Homo sapiens: one gene and its partner. The protein of the gene in region 1 interacts with the protein of each later gene in a biochemical or structural test. Each region holds a gene or a part of one and is shown on either strand. Other genes may lie near its edges.

Region 1 (7,021 bases):
TTGTGGACATGTACCCTAGAACTTAAAGTATAATTTAAAAAAAAAAGGCAAATGTAGTTTACATTAAGTCCATAACTAAAATGTTTACAAAACTAAGGGATAAATCCTTTTTTTAAATCGTTTTTAGGTACGAATGTGAAGAATCTTTTACGACCCTAAACGTAGACATTAGAAATCACCAAAATCTTCTTGATTCTTTGGAACAGTATGTCAAAGGAGATTTACTAGAAGGTGCAAATGCATATCATTGTGAAAAATGCAATAAAAAGGTACGGGCTGTCCAGTTTTGTTTAATTTTGATTACATTTAATGGATTTAGAAGAAATTGGTTTTTTTGGTTCATCCTCACAAGTCACCCTATTTTTATTTTCTCCTACTTTGGTATAGTGGTAGCAGAGAAGTAGTCAATATGATAACTAATAGAAGGTTTGGCAAGGAAGGAAAAAAAGTAGTGCCAAAGGGGCTAGGTAAATAAGATAAAAATAGGTAAATAAGAGTGAATAATTTTAAAAGTCATAACGTGATAGCACATTCTCTTATATAAGTTACACAGACACTTTCCATCTCTACCGAGAAACAAATTGCCATTGAACCCCTCAAAGATACAGAGCTGATAGAGGAAAACATTTCTCCTGTCATGTCCAGGATTACTTGTCAAGACCAAAACATTTGCTGAAACCATTAATTACTTTATTGAACCACATAAGATTTCTTTTAGACTAGTCAAGTGGCCCATAAGATTTCTTTTATCACCTATGTTATAAAACCATTTATTTTGGAAACTTATTAGCAGTTCTTTGAGAGAGATGATTCACACGCATTATAGTAATGAATAAGGTGTATCTTTGGGAGCTCCCAAACCCTTTCACCCTCAAGTCACTTGTGTTGTTTTGGCCTTATGCACCACTTAGAGAAGTCCTGAAGTTTAAAGATTGAGATTGTGGGCTGTAAAGCCATACTGCCTGCCACCTGCAGCTCCTGAGACCTGAGGCAAGTTACTTGACCTCTCTGTGATTACTAGTTTTCATCTTTTAAGGTTCAGTAGTACACACTTGAGAAGGTTGTAAGGATTCGGTATGTTTTTACTTGTGCGGCACTTAGTATATATTACCTGGCATCTGAATTACCCAACAAATATTAGCTACTCTTATTGTTATTGTAGTTCTTTGGTTTGTGCATAGGAAACCACCTTCGTGGGAACAACAGTAAACATCAAACAGGTAATAATGGCTAGATAACAATGACAGAAACCAGTCAACAATTTACCATTTGCATATTATTAATTTCAGCATTTAAATCAGCTGATAGGATTATCTTGATTATGCTCATTGTCATGTATTTGTTTATACTTAAAAATTCAGATAAGTCTTAATATCATTTAAAAGTTTGCTTGGGGTTTTTTTTTTTTTCCTGTGGATTTTAATAGAACATCTGGTAACTTTGTCTTGTTTATTTTAGGTTGATACCGTAAAGCGCTTGCTGATTAAAAAATTACCTCCTGTTCTTGCTATACAACTAAAGCGATTTGACTATGACTGGGAAAGAGAATGTGCAATCAAGTTCAATGATTATTTTGAATTTCCTCGAGAGCTGGACATGGAACCTTACACAGTTGCAGGTGTCGCAAAGCTGGAAGGGGATAATGTAAACCCAGAGAGTCAGTTGATACAACAGAGTGAGCAGTCTGAAAGTGAGACAGCAGGAAGCACAAAATACAGACTTGTGGGTGTGCTCGTACACAGTGGTCAAGCGAGTGGGGGGCATTATTATTCTTACATCATCCAAAGGAATGGTGGAGATGGTGAGAGAAATCGCTGGTATAAATTTGATGATGGTGATGTAACAGAATGTAAAATGGATGATGACGAAGAAATGAAAAACCAGTGTTTTGGTGGAGAGTACATGGGAGAAGTGTTTGATCACATGATGAAGCGTATGTCATACAGGCGCCAGAAAAGGTGGTGGAATGCTTATATACTTTTTTATGAACGAATGGACACAATAGACCAAGATGATGAGTTGATAAGATATATATCAGAGCTTGCTATCACCACCAGACCTCATCAGATTATTATGCCATCAGCCATTGAGAGAAGTGTACGGAAACAGAACGTACAATTCATGCATAACCGAATGCAGTACAGTATGGAGTATTTTCAGTTTATGAAAAAACTGCTTACATGTAATGGCGTTTACTTAAACCCTCCTCCCGGTGAGTATCAAGAGAGTTTAGCTTCTTAGTAATAAAGAATAATTTATAGTAGGCGTCAACATGTTTAAGTTCATAAAATTAATGTTTTCACTTTAAATGAGTCTAATTTGCTGGGTGTGGTGGTTCACGCCTGTAATCCCAGCACTTTGGGAGGCCGAGGTAGGTGGATCACCTGAGGTCAAGAGTTCAATACCAGCCTGACCAACATGGTGAAACCCCATCTCTACTAAAAATATAAAAATTAGCCAGGCATGGTGGCATGCACCTGTAGTCCCAGCTACTCCCTGTAGTCCCAGCTACTCCGGAGGCTGAGGCAGGAGAATCGCTTGAACCTGGGAGGTGGAGGTTGCAGTGACCCAAATTGATGGCCACTGCACTCCAGCCTGGGTGACAGTGAGTCTCCATCTCAAAAAAATAAAATAAAAAAATAAATGGGTCTAAATTAAAGTAGCCTGAGAAGGGTTCTTAACAAATTTAGGACTTCTCAAAATTAATGGAAACACAGACTTGTTTGAAAATGGGGTTGGAAAATAAAAATGTGTTTTTATATCTGCATTTTATTTATAGGGCAAGATCACCTGTTGCCTGAAGCAGAAGAAATCACTATGATCAGTATTCAACTTGCTGCTAGGTTCCTCTTTACTACAGGATTTCACACAAAGAAAGTAGTCCGTGGCTCTGCCAGTGATTGGTACATTGCTTTGGATTTTCATTCCTATTATACTAATGTTTGGTTTGCTTCTTTAATAGATTGCTTTATGTTTTTCTAAACCAAGAGAATTTTGTTTGAAGTTTGGAATATAGAATAAAAACTCTGGGTCACAATAGAGAAATCATATTAAAATAGTTACTTAGTCTAAACATGGCCTTTTGTTATTCAGAAGCTGACTTCTGCTTCTATTACCTTGTATCATATCTTTGACATCCCTGCACCAAAGACTACAAGCTGAGACTGGGGGACAGTGACTCACACCTGTAATGCCAGCACTTTGGGAAGCCAGGGTGGGAGGATTGCTTGAGCTCGGGAGTTCAGGACCAGCCTAGGCAACATAGTGAGACCCCCATCTCTTCAAAGAAGATTTTAAAAATTACCCAAGTATGGTGGCGCACACCTGTAATCCCAGCTACTCGGAAGGCTGAGGTGGGAGGATCGCTGGAGCCTGGGAGGTTGAAGCTGCAGTGAGCCATGACTGTGCCACTGCACTCCAGCCTGGGCAGCAGAGCAAGACCCTGTCTCAAACAAAACCAAAGATTACAAGATGAGACTGAAAAGTGTAAGCTACTTATGAAATTTATTAGGTTTTAGCTTACCTAGATTGAATTCTGACACCGATTAAAAGGGTAAAAAATTAAAATGGTTTTCTTAAGTTTCTAATTGTGAAAGTATAGAGGCCATTATGATACATTGATTTAATAATTTTTACTTACTCATTTCAGGAATATGTCAAGATAAGGGGGTGGTATTTTGTCATTGAATCTAGGAAGAGTTTGTTAATGGATTTTTAGAGGACAAGCTTTCACCTGTTTGGTAACTCTGAGAGAATAGACCAAGTCATAGTATTTATCTATTGTTTTAATATTAGAAGCAACCTTTGCTGGTTCTCTCCAGCAGTAGAGGAAGATCTTTGTCTTTTTTTTTTGGTTCAATGAGACTCATCCTTTTACTATAGAGAACAAGTTATTGACTTAATAGTCATAGGTTTTTTTGTTTTATTTTAGGTATGATGCATTGTGTATTCTCCTTCGTCACAGCAAGAATGTACGTTTTTGGTTTGCTCATAACGTCCTTTTTAATGTTTCAAATCGCTTCTCCGAATACCTTCTGGAGTGCCCTAGTGCAGAAGTGAGGGGTGCGTTTGCAAAACTTATAGTCTTTATTGCACATTTTTCCTTGCAAGATGGGCCATGTCCTTCACCTTTTGCCTCTCCTGGACCTTCTAGTCAGGTAATTGCACAGCTTTCTTTCTAAATGATGAGATGTTTACAAATAAATTGTGTTTCCTGGAAGTCGAAGTCACAAGCATATGTGCATCCACTTGATATGTTTACCTAACAGAAACACACAATATGATGTCAGTGAGTTCCATTTAATATTACTGCATGGCAATGAATAGTAATTATTGGCTCTTTAAAAATGTAAGAGAATTTTCTCTGTTCGGTTACATGCAGTAGCTTAATTATAAGTTTACTGTTAAGTAGATTTTTTCCTATTTTGAAGGTTTTTTAAATAGTCTTAGATTTTTTTAAAAAATTACAAGTGTAAAAAATTATAATGAAATCCGCCTCTGATCTTCATTCCCTTTCCCAAGAAGCAAAATAGTTTAGTTTGTGTGATCAGTCCTTCCATAAATGTATGCCTGTATCAGCATATGTGCATGTCCTTTTTATGCAAGTAGAAGTATACATATACCTTGTTGCTGTAAAACAGGTAATGTTTTATCCTTTACAGGCTTATGACAACTTAAGCTTGAGTGATCACTTACTAAGAGCAGTACTAAATCTCTTGAGAAGGGAAGTTTCAGAGCATGGGCGTCATTTACAGCAGTATTTCAACCTGTTTGTAATGTATGCCAATTTAGGTAAGAATTTAAGTTTTTCAGAATTCTGTTTTGATGTATCATATTAAATTGTGAAGTCATTTAGGTCAAGTGATGAAATATAATCTGATCTGAAGTAGAAACAATTTCCCATAAAACCTGTTGTGAATTTTATCTGAACATGGCACTTTCACCTTTTACTTTGTTTATGCATGTGTCTTTGTGGTAGACACAGGTCAGAATCTGTGTTTTGATTTTTTTTTTTTTTTAATCTCCTAATGCAGTGGTGCCAAATCTGGCTGCTTTTGGAAAATACTGGTTTCTAGGCCTCTTCTCACACTGATTGAATCAGCATCCCCAAAGCTAATGTCAGGGAATCCATGTTTTCAAAGGGGTCCCCAAATGGTTGTGATACTCACCAAATTTAGATAGCAGACTTGGTCTGTACATAAGTTTTTGTTTAAGTAAACTACAATTATGGATAATATAAATACTCGCTTAAAATATTAATTTAGGGGCCGGGCACAATGGCTTATGCCTGTACTCCCAGCACTTTGGGAGGCCAAGGCAAGAGGATTGCTTGAGCCCAGGAGACTAACCTAGGCACCATAGGGAGACCCTATCTCTACAAAATAAAATTTTAAAATTAGCTGGATGTAGTGGCATATGCCTGTAGTCCTAGCTACTTGGGAGGCTGAGGTGGGAGAATCACTTGAGCTAAGGAGGTTGAGGCTGCAGTGACCCGTGATTGCACCACTGCACTCCAGCCTGGGCAACAGAATGAGACCCTGTCTCCAAAAAGCAAACAAACCAAAAAGTCATATATCCAAAATGAAGTTCTATATCCAGGCGTACCTGTCGTTTCAGGTTTTTTTTCTGTGATCTTACTTAATCACCATTGGATCCATGGCCCTTTTAACATAAGGGAGATTGTACTTTTCATTTGTCTATTTAGTTTGTCTTCTTTTCCCTTGTCTTTTCCGTAATTGCAGATATTTGGGTATTTGTAGATGAGAAAGAGAATATTTATTACACAGACAAGCATAAGTGGAATCTGTATTTCAAACTTAAAAATGCCAAATTTAGACATTCAGAAGAATCCTATTCTGTTCAACTCTTTTAGATATTGCCTGTTCACAAAGCACACATCATTGTTCCATAATGTAACCTACTTGTAAAATTTTCCTGCTGAAAACAAATACTGTAGGGCCTGTAAACCTTAATATGAAGTCCTTAAGATCAGATATGCATTGGGATTGAGAATTGTTTGGATTTAAGAAAAGCAAGGCAGTGCATATACCAACATCTCTATAGCAGGGTCTGAGACAACAACTTACAATTGAACACATTAATATTTCTACAGTAAAATATGAATATTTATACTGAAGGGAGAAATAAAGACTATAAGTAGCCTTTAGTCAGTTTGGGCTAGGTTATCCCACCAACCACATTTTGACAGCAACTTAATGAAAAACTTTGTTGGGCTGGGCGAGGTGGCTCATGCCTGTAATCCCAGCACTTTGGGAGGCCGAGGCAGGCGGATCACCTGAGGTATGGAGTTCAAGACCAGCCTGGCAAACATGGCGAAACCCCATCTCTACTTAAAAATACAAAAATTAGCAGGGCGTGGTGGCGGGCATCTGTAGTCCCAGCTATTCGGGAGGCTGAGGCTTGAATCTGGGAGGCAGAGGTTGCAATGAGCCAAGATCGCGCCACTGCACTCCAGCCTGGGCAACAGGGCAAGACTCCGTCTCAAAAAAAAAAAAAAAACTTGTTATAATAATAGCTTTTGGGCCAGGCGCGGTGGCTCACGTCTGTAATCCCAGCACTTTGGGAGGCCGAGGCAGGCAGATCACAAGGTCAGGAGTTCAAGACCAGCCTGACCAACATGGTGAAACCCCGTCTCTACTAAATATACAAAAATTAGCCGGGCGTGGTGGCACATGCGTGTAATCCCAGCTACTCAGGAGGCTGAGGCAGAAGAATCGCTTGAACCCAGAAGGCGGAGGTTGCAGTGAGCTGAGATCACACCACTGCACTCCAGCCTGGGAGACAAAGCGAGACTCCATCTTAAAAAAAATTAAAAATTAAAATAGCTTTTGGAATCTTAGGATTTCAGATAAGAGGTTGTGGACCTGTTTTTATTATGTTTTTGGGAATATGGCAATAAATAAGATTGTCTAATGGGATATAGAAGCAAATAATGTAGTTGCCATAAAATATGTTAATAGCTATAATAGGGAAAATGCAAAGTGCATCACGGGGGGCATGG
Region 2 (7,426 bases), on another chromosome or scaffold:
TGTCTGGGGTATATAAAGAATCCCTAAAACTCAAAAATTTAAAAAAAAAAATTAGGCCGAGTGTGGTGGCTCACGCCTGTAATCCCAGCACTTTGGGAGGCTGAGGCAGGCAGATCACCTGAGGTCGGGAGTTCAAGACCAGTTGGACTTCATCAAAATTAAAAATTTTTATGCTTCAAATAACACCAACCAGAAATGAAATGACAACCATAGACAGGGAGATAATATTGTAAAATATATCTGATAAGGGACTTGTGTCTGGGATATATAAAGAATCCCTAAAACTGAAAACTTTAAAAAAAAAATTTTAGTCCAGGTGGCTCACACCTGTAATCCCAGCACTTTGGGAGGCTGAGGCAGGGAGATCACCTGAGGTCGGGAGTTCAAGACCAGCCTGACCAACATAGAGAAACTCCATCTCTACTAAAAATACAAAATAAGCCAGGTGTGGTGGCACATGCCTGTAATCCCAGCTACTCGGGAGGCTGAGGCAGGAGAATCGCTTGAACCCGGGAGGTGGAAGTTGTGGTGAGCTGAGATTGTGCCATTGCACTCCAGCTGAGGCAATAAGAGGGAAACTACATCTAAAAAAAAAAAAAAAAAAAAAAAAAAAAAAAAAAGCCCAATTTGAAAGATAAAGGATTTGAATAGACAGTTCTCCAAAGAAGATATACAAGTGACCAATAAGCTCCTGAAAACACACTCAACATCATTAGTCATTTGTTAAATGCAGTTCAAAATCACAATGAGATATCACATTGTACCCACTAGGATGGCTATAATAAAAAAGACAGGCAATAACAGCATTGGTGAGGATGTGGGGAAATCAGAACCCTCATAAATTGCTAGTGAGAATGTAAAATGATGCAGCACTTTGGAAAACAGTTTGATAGTTTCTCAAAATGTTAAACATAGTACGATATCACTCAGCAATCCCACTCTTTTGTGTCTACCCAAGAGACATGAATGCATGTCCACAAAAAAAAAACTTGCACATGAATGTTCATAGCAACATTATTCATAACAGCCAAAAAGTGAAAACAACTCAAGTGTTCATCAACTGAGATTTGGATAAACAAAATGTTGTATACCCACACAGTGGAATATTATTTGGGCATAAAAAGGAAAGAAGTACTAAAGTATTCTATGCCTTAGTTCATTTGCTGTTGCTTAAACAGAACACTTGAACCTGGGTAATTTATAAAGAAAAGAAATTCACTTCTTACAGTTATGAAGGCTGAGAAGTCCAAAGTCTAGGGATCACATCTGGTGAGGACCTTCTTGCTGGTGCGGACTCTCTGCCAAGTCCCAAGGTGACACAGGACATTACATGGCAAGGTGGCTGAGAGTGCTAGCTCAGGTCCCTCTTCCTCTTCTTATAAAGCCACAAGTCTCTCTCTTGTGATAACCCATTAATCCATTAACCAATTAATCCATTAATCCATGAGTGGATTAACCACCTCTGAAAGACCCCACCTCTCAGTACTGCCATATTGGAGATTAAATTTCAACATGAGTTTTGGAGAGGACAAATATTTGAACCATATATTGTATGATTCCATTTGTAGAAAATGTCCAGAAGAGGAAAATCTATAGAGACAGAAACTAGATGAGTGGTCATCTAGGGCTGGTAGGTGGGGACAAATGAAGAATGATACCTAATAAGCATGGTGTTTTTTGGGGTGGTGACAAAAAGTGTTAAAAAAAAATAGATTACAAATTACATAATTCTGTAAATACACTAAAACCCATTGAATTGTACACTTTAAGTGAGTGAACTTTCTGATATGTAAATTATACCTTAATAATTTTTTTTAAAGAGAGGGAATAAAATGAGAGAAATCTAAGTCAACAAGTATAGACAAGTCTTCCAAGGAATTCCTTGCATTCATAAAGGTTTGGTTTTAATTACCAGCATTTAACTGCATTTGTTGTAGCAAAGGAGGAGGATGCTCCACTTCACGTAGAGACCAGGGAAGTGCCATTGTACTTACTTCTCTGTATCTCCAAGTGGATATTTTTCCCAGTTCTCTGATTTTATTTTCACTGTTAGTATCAACCCCAGAGCATATAACCCAAGAATCTGTGTCTCACTTAAGCTTACTGATCATTTCTGCTTCTTTTCTTTATTTTTCTGTTCACATTATCCTGATAGGATGCAGGGTGAAGAAATAATCAGCCTCTGTTCATCTTATTAGAGAAATAAATACCTGTGTATATGAAGCAAGCAAGGCCACTGAGTCTTTGGGGAAACAGAGCAGGGAGGTGCCCAGAGGCATTTTCTGCAGAGAAGGAAGAAAAGAATAAACAAGTCTTCTGCCAAAAATGCCTGGAACTTAAAGCGATTTCCTCAGCCCAAGATCAGGCTGTGTGCAGACACTGACAGTGAACCTGATCAGTTGCTGCTGCTCCCTTGATTAAAAGCATGTAGCTTTCTCTCTTGTGAAATTCACCTCTATAAATTCCACCTGCCTAGGGATTCAAACTACATGGAACAAGTGCAATTCCTCAGAGTGGCAACTGGCAGAGCTCCCAGGAACAAGGTAGAACTACACAATGTCCCAGGCATCAGAGGCATAGATTGCCTGAGTCAGGGAGAGTGGTCTCTGTGACCTGACACCCCACCCACAGTGGGAAGGAAAGCTGTGGGTGTGTTATCAAGGAGGCCTCCACAAGGGGCTGGAAATTCCTGGTTTTGTCTTCCTCTTGGAATGAGACATTTACTCTAAGAGAATCATGGAAAAGTACAAACCACAGAATCATAAACCACAGAGGGAGAAGCTACCTCGTAGGTCATTCTTATGCTGGGCCCAGATACCCCGATAAGCAGATGTTCTCTTCTCACCACCCCTCCTCGCCTTTGCTTGCCCACAGCCATTGCCAGGACTCTTCCTCAGGCCCAGAAAGGCAGCTGATTCCTGGTAGGAGGGCGCTAAGAGTAGAAAGTAACTACCATTGTCAGGTCCAGATCTGTTCCCAATCCCTTCTCACTCCTCCTGCACTCTAAAACCACACCACAGTTCCAACTCTTTCTGAGTCTGGAATCTTTGAGAGTGCCGTCATGTCCTTCTTCCTGTAGCCTTCTTGTCCACCCCAGATGGACTGACCCTCCCACCTACATCCATGAGGCCAGAAGGCAACAAAGACAAGCGTGGACTCTGGCTCCCGCCGAGGTACTCTGTACCCCGTGGCTCTCGGATTTTGCATCTACCACATGCCACAGGCTTGCGTCCATCCGACCTCCCTAGTTTCTCATCCCCACTTGAACCTGATGACTGATTCGCCCTCCTGGCTACGCTGAGTAAGCCACCCACTTGCCAAACCTCAGACCTGGTGTTGACGCAGTAAGAAGGCATGAGGCCCATGTTGCCAGAACATTCCTAATTGTTTCATTGTTTCCTTGTAGGATGTGGTTTCAAGTCCCATCTTTGTCTCTTTTCTCCTGGCCAGGTTGCCCTTGGTCAATATTCCTTCATTCACTCCAGCCACTCAGCACCGTGATTAAGAAAACAGGATGTGAGATTAGATGATCCAGGCTCTGCCATGAACTAACTAGCTGTGAGGCTTTAGAGAAGTGTCTTAACCTCTCTGAGCATCCATTTCTTTCTCTATAGCATTAGGAATATTAATAGTACCTACCTCACAGCTTTTTTGTTGTGATAATACCAATAAATGAAATAATCTTCATAAAGCACAGAGGCTTGAATGTTCACTCTAAGTATTTAATATGTGTCCTCTACTATTTTATTTTACAATTATCATTCCTTAATTCATCATATAATTACCAAGCCTCATGCCAGGCACTGAGATATAAATATCCCCTTTAAAGAGTGGTCATGTCTTAAATCCAGGAAGAGCTAGTTCATGTTGGCACCCAGGGTAGGGAGCGAAGCCCAGGGCCACAGCACAGAGGCAGAGGAGAATAGACACTGACCACCAGGAGCTGCCCGGGGATGGTGACAAAAGTGCCTTCCACCTTTCCGCATCTCTTTCAATACCACTGCAACTCCTTGAGTAAGGTGGGCACCACACAGAAGAAGGGGGATGGCAGAGGGGCAGTGAGAGGTCCCCAGGGAAACACCCTCTTCTTCTTCCCTGCTTCTCTGACAGAGCACGGCCATGCCTCTGCCATGCAGGAGGGTGATGTCCTTTGGGGAGGCCTTGTTGAATCTGTCTGGGGCTGTTCCGGAAGTAGGAAGGGCGGCTGGGGGTGGGGAGACGGCAGGAATGTTCTCCTGGCCTGCTGGTCTGTGCCGGCGAGTGTGCTGAGAGGAGGGCCTCTGGACATCAAAGGTTCCTTTTGTCCCCTTCCGAGTGGCAGGGCAGCCCGGCCCGGGCTGCTGGCGATGACTCAGGCCTGGCCCTGACGTCACCCACGCCCGGCCACTGGCCTCCCTCTGAAGCCAGGAAACTAGTTGGGGAGTGGCACTCGCAGCTGCAGCAAATCTCAAAATAAAGAGGCAACGGCCTTTCTCTTCCTCTCCATCTCCCTATAGCACACCTTTTATTTCTTTTCTTCTTTTTTTTAAGCCTCACGAAAGATTTTACTTGTAGATCAACTTTCAAAATGTAGGAAGTCAGAATGGGTGACATCATCAGAAAAATATGTGGAGCTGATCACAAGAAGTGAAGAACCCAGAGCACGAAAGCGGTTGTGACTCCTGGGCCCAGGGAGTTGACAGCGTCTGGGTTTCAGAGGAGCCAGCGCCTCCGAGTAAGTGAAGGCCCACTTTTGGCCCCCCCTCACTCAGCGCCCTTCACCGTAGGGCGCCATCTTGTTCCCTGACGCCTACAGCTTGCCAAGCCCCAGCCCAGAGTTGGGAGTAGGGACTGCATTTGGGAGACCCTCTAAATACGGCCCCAAAGGGATCTGATATCTCTCTCCACAGGATCAGAAAAGAATGCAAAAAAAAAAAAAAAAAACAATACTAAGACGGAAACCCTGGGGAGAACAGCCCAACTGATGCCTTTCCCTGTCAACCCTCTTGTTTTGCCTCCTCTTCCTCCCCTCACCTGAGTATTCCGTTTCAGGCTGTCAGAATGTTTGTTCAGAGTTCTGGATTGTTTGCTTCCTAGATCTTATACTGAGCGATCAGACATAAAAATAAACCCTGTTCTAGGCAAATACGTGTCCTGTGCCATCAAATGGTATTTTCACACTTAACCTGGTAAAATATGACAGCCCTGGTAAAAAGATGTACATAATTGTGCTGCCTTTACTGAGCACGTTTCTGATTGTTCTGTGTATGAACCTCCATTATCTTATCGCCCTGTTTACAGAGGACTTATTTTCATTCCTACTTGTGCCATCGTATCTGGGATGATATTAAGCACAAAGACACAATGTGTCTGTTTTAACTTTGTCTAAAAACTCATAGTTCTTTACAAAGCCTATAATTTCACGACCTCTGGAAGTTCCTACCCAAGAAAGTTAAGTTCCCAAGAGAAAAGTTTTGACACATACATGAGAACAGCACGTAGGCATAGAAATCATACCCTGATTTTCCCGGCTTCTAAGTCATCCCCTGAGTCAGCATCTAGTCTTCGTATAGCTGACGTACCAGGGGAGATCTGTTCTTCAGAAATTCTATGTTAAAATGACTGGGAGCGGGGAGGCGTAAGTCTCATTTTAAAGGCAGTAAGGAAGCTTGTCATTTACTGGAAAACAGTGGCATATTCCTTTGTAAATGGACAACTCCCTTTGGAAATTAACTATCACACACTAAAATATCTGTTTTATAGGCCTTATGTTTTACTTTTTGTTTTACTTTAATATATTAGGTTGTCTTGAAGTGAGGCTCTGCTGTAGTCCTGTTCTTCTGGCTCTAAGATCTGAATGTTGTGACCACTAATTTGGTAAGTGTCATTTGTCCCCAACAGCTACTTAAATTTAAGTCTCCCAATTCTCCTTTTTTAGTTTGTGGTAAGATTCAAAGAAAAGGGGAAAGGGCACAGAGATTTCTGTACACAATGATTACAGCTATATTAAAAAGGATATTAGGATAGGCTAATTGTTATAATAGAACCCCAAATCTATAATGGCTCAAACACAATAGTTTATTTCTTGCTCATGTAACAGTACAGGTCAGTGGGGCAACTGTCTTTCATGCATTCATTCAGAGACACAGGTAGAGAGGGGCTTTGCCTTCTGCAGCATGTGGTTTTCAAGGTCGCCTAGGGGTGTCTCCACTCCTCAGTGCAGTAAGAAAAGAGCATGAAAAAGTGCACATGGGAGTTTTTTATGGGCTCTGCCTAGAAGTGGTGCGTGTTACTTCTACTCACATTCCATTGGCTAAAACTCCATCACATGACCACAGCTAACCACAGAGGAGTCTGGGAAATGTAGTCCTTGGTGGAGCAGCCACTTAGCAGTGACAGCTCTGGAGGGGTTTCTGAAGAAGAGGTAGTTCTCTCTGGCACAGCACATAAAAGAAACTTGGAGATACTCAAGGATAAAGTTGCATAGAAACAGTGGGAGAAGTAAACAATTATCCACATTTAGGTTTTCCTGACTGACACTCTTAGGTAACATCTGGCCATGAGGGCAAGATGCAATGGATGAGATTTCTCAACACCTCTGTCCATTATGACCCTAAGCATCATGTTGCCCATGGCCAGTGAACCATGAAGGACATTTTCCTTATTTCCTTTTACTTATTTTTCCTCTCAGGATCCTCTTGGTCTAGGACTATACTGGCTTTCTCTTCTTCCTGGATCTAGTCATATTAGTTGGAATTGTGACAGAATTCTGCTCCCCCAACTATGAGCCCCAGTGGTCTATAGGAAAGCTCTTGACTTCCTTAGCTCGTAGTTTTCTCTGCTACTGGAGGCTTTGGAAATGTATCCTACAGGATCTGCTCCAGGTCTTGGGACATTTGATCAGGGTGAAAATTCCCGAAGGTTAGACCTTTAAACCAAGTTATTAAACTGTTTTTTCTTTTCTTTTCTTTCTTTCTTTTTTTTTTTTTTTTTTTTTTTTTTGAGGCAGAGTCTCACTCTGTTGCCAGGCTGGAGTGCATCGGCATGATCTCAGTTCACTGCAACCTCTGCCTCCCAGGTTCAAGTGATTCTACTGCCTCAGCCTCCTGAGTAGCTGGGACTGCAGGCACGCACCACCACACCCAGCTAATTTTTGTATTTTTAGTAGAGATGGGGTTTCACCATGTTGGCCAGGATGGTCTCCATCTCTTGACCTCGTGATCTGCCGGCCTTGGCCTGCCAAAGTGCTGAGATTACAGACATGAGCCATAGCGCCCAGCCGAGAAACTTTTTTTTTCTTTGAGACAGGGTTTCACTCTGTCACCCAGGCTGGAGTGCAGTGGCACGATCATGGCTCACTGCAGCCTCAACTTCTCAGGCTCAAGCGATCCTCCCAAGTAGCTGAGACTACAGGCATGTGTCACCATGCCTGGCTAATTTTTGTATT

The links. The genes of interacting proteins can lie anywhere in the genome.
Region 2: the proteins of USP9X (region 1) and ZBTB38 form a complex in vitro, tested with the Homo sapiens proteins (one study listed by BioGRID).

The regions. Positions count from the first base shown.
Region 1 is NC_000023.11:41,214,441-41,221,461, forward strand, and holds part of USP9X (ubiquitin carboxyl-terminal hydrolase 9X), read left to right. Parts: intron 1-127; coding exon 128-269; intron 270-1,458; coding exon 1,459-2,212; intron 2,213-2,779; coding exon 2,780-2,903; intron 2,904-3,931; coding exon 3,932-4,157; intron 4,158-4,661; coding exon 4,662-4,791; intron 4,792-7,021.
Region 2 is NC_000003.12:141,364,091-141,371,516, forward strand, and holds the start of ZBTB38 (zinc finger and BTB domain-containing protein 38), read left to right. Parts: upstream 1-4,413; 5' UTR 4,414-4,714; intron 4,715-5,781; 5' UTR 5,782-5,856; intron 5,857-7,426. UniProt on the Homo sapiens protein: Transcriptional regulator with bimodal DNA-binding specificity. Binds with a higher affinity to methylated CpG dinucleotides in the consensus sequence 5'-CGCG-3' but can also bind to E-box elements (5'-CACGTG-3').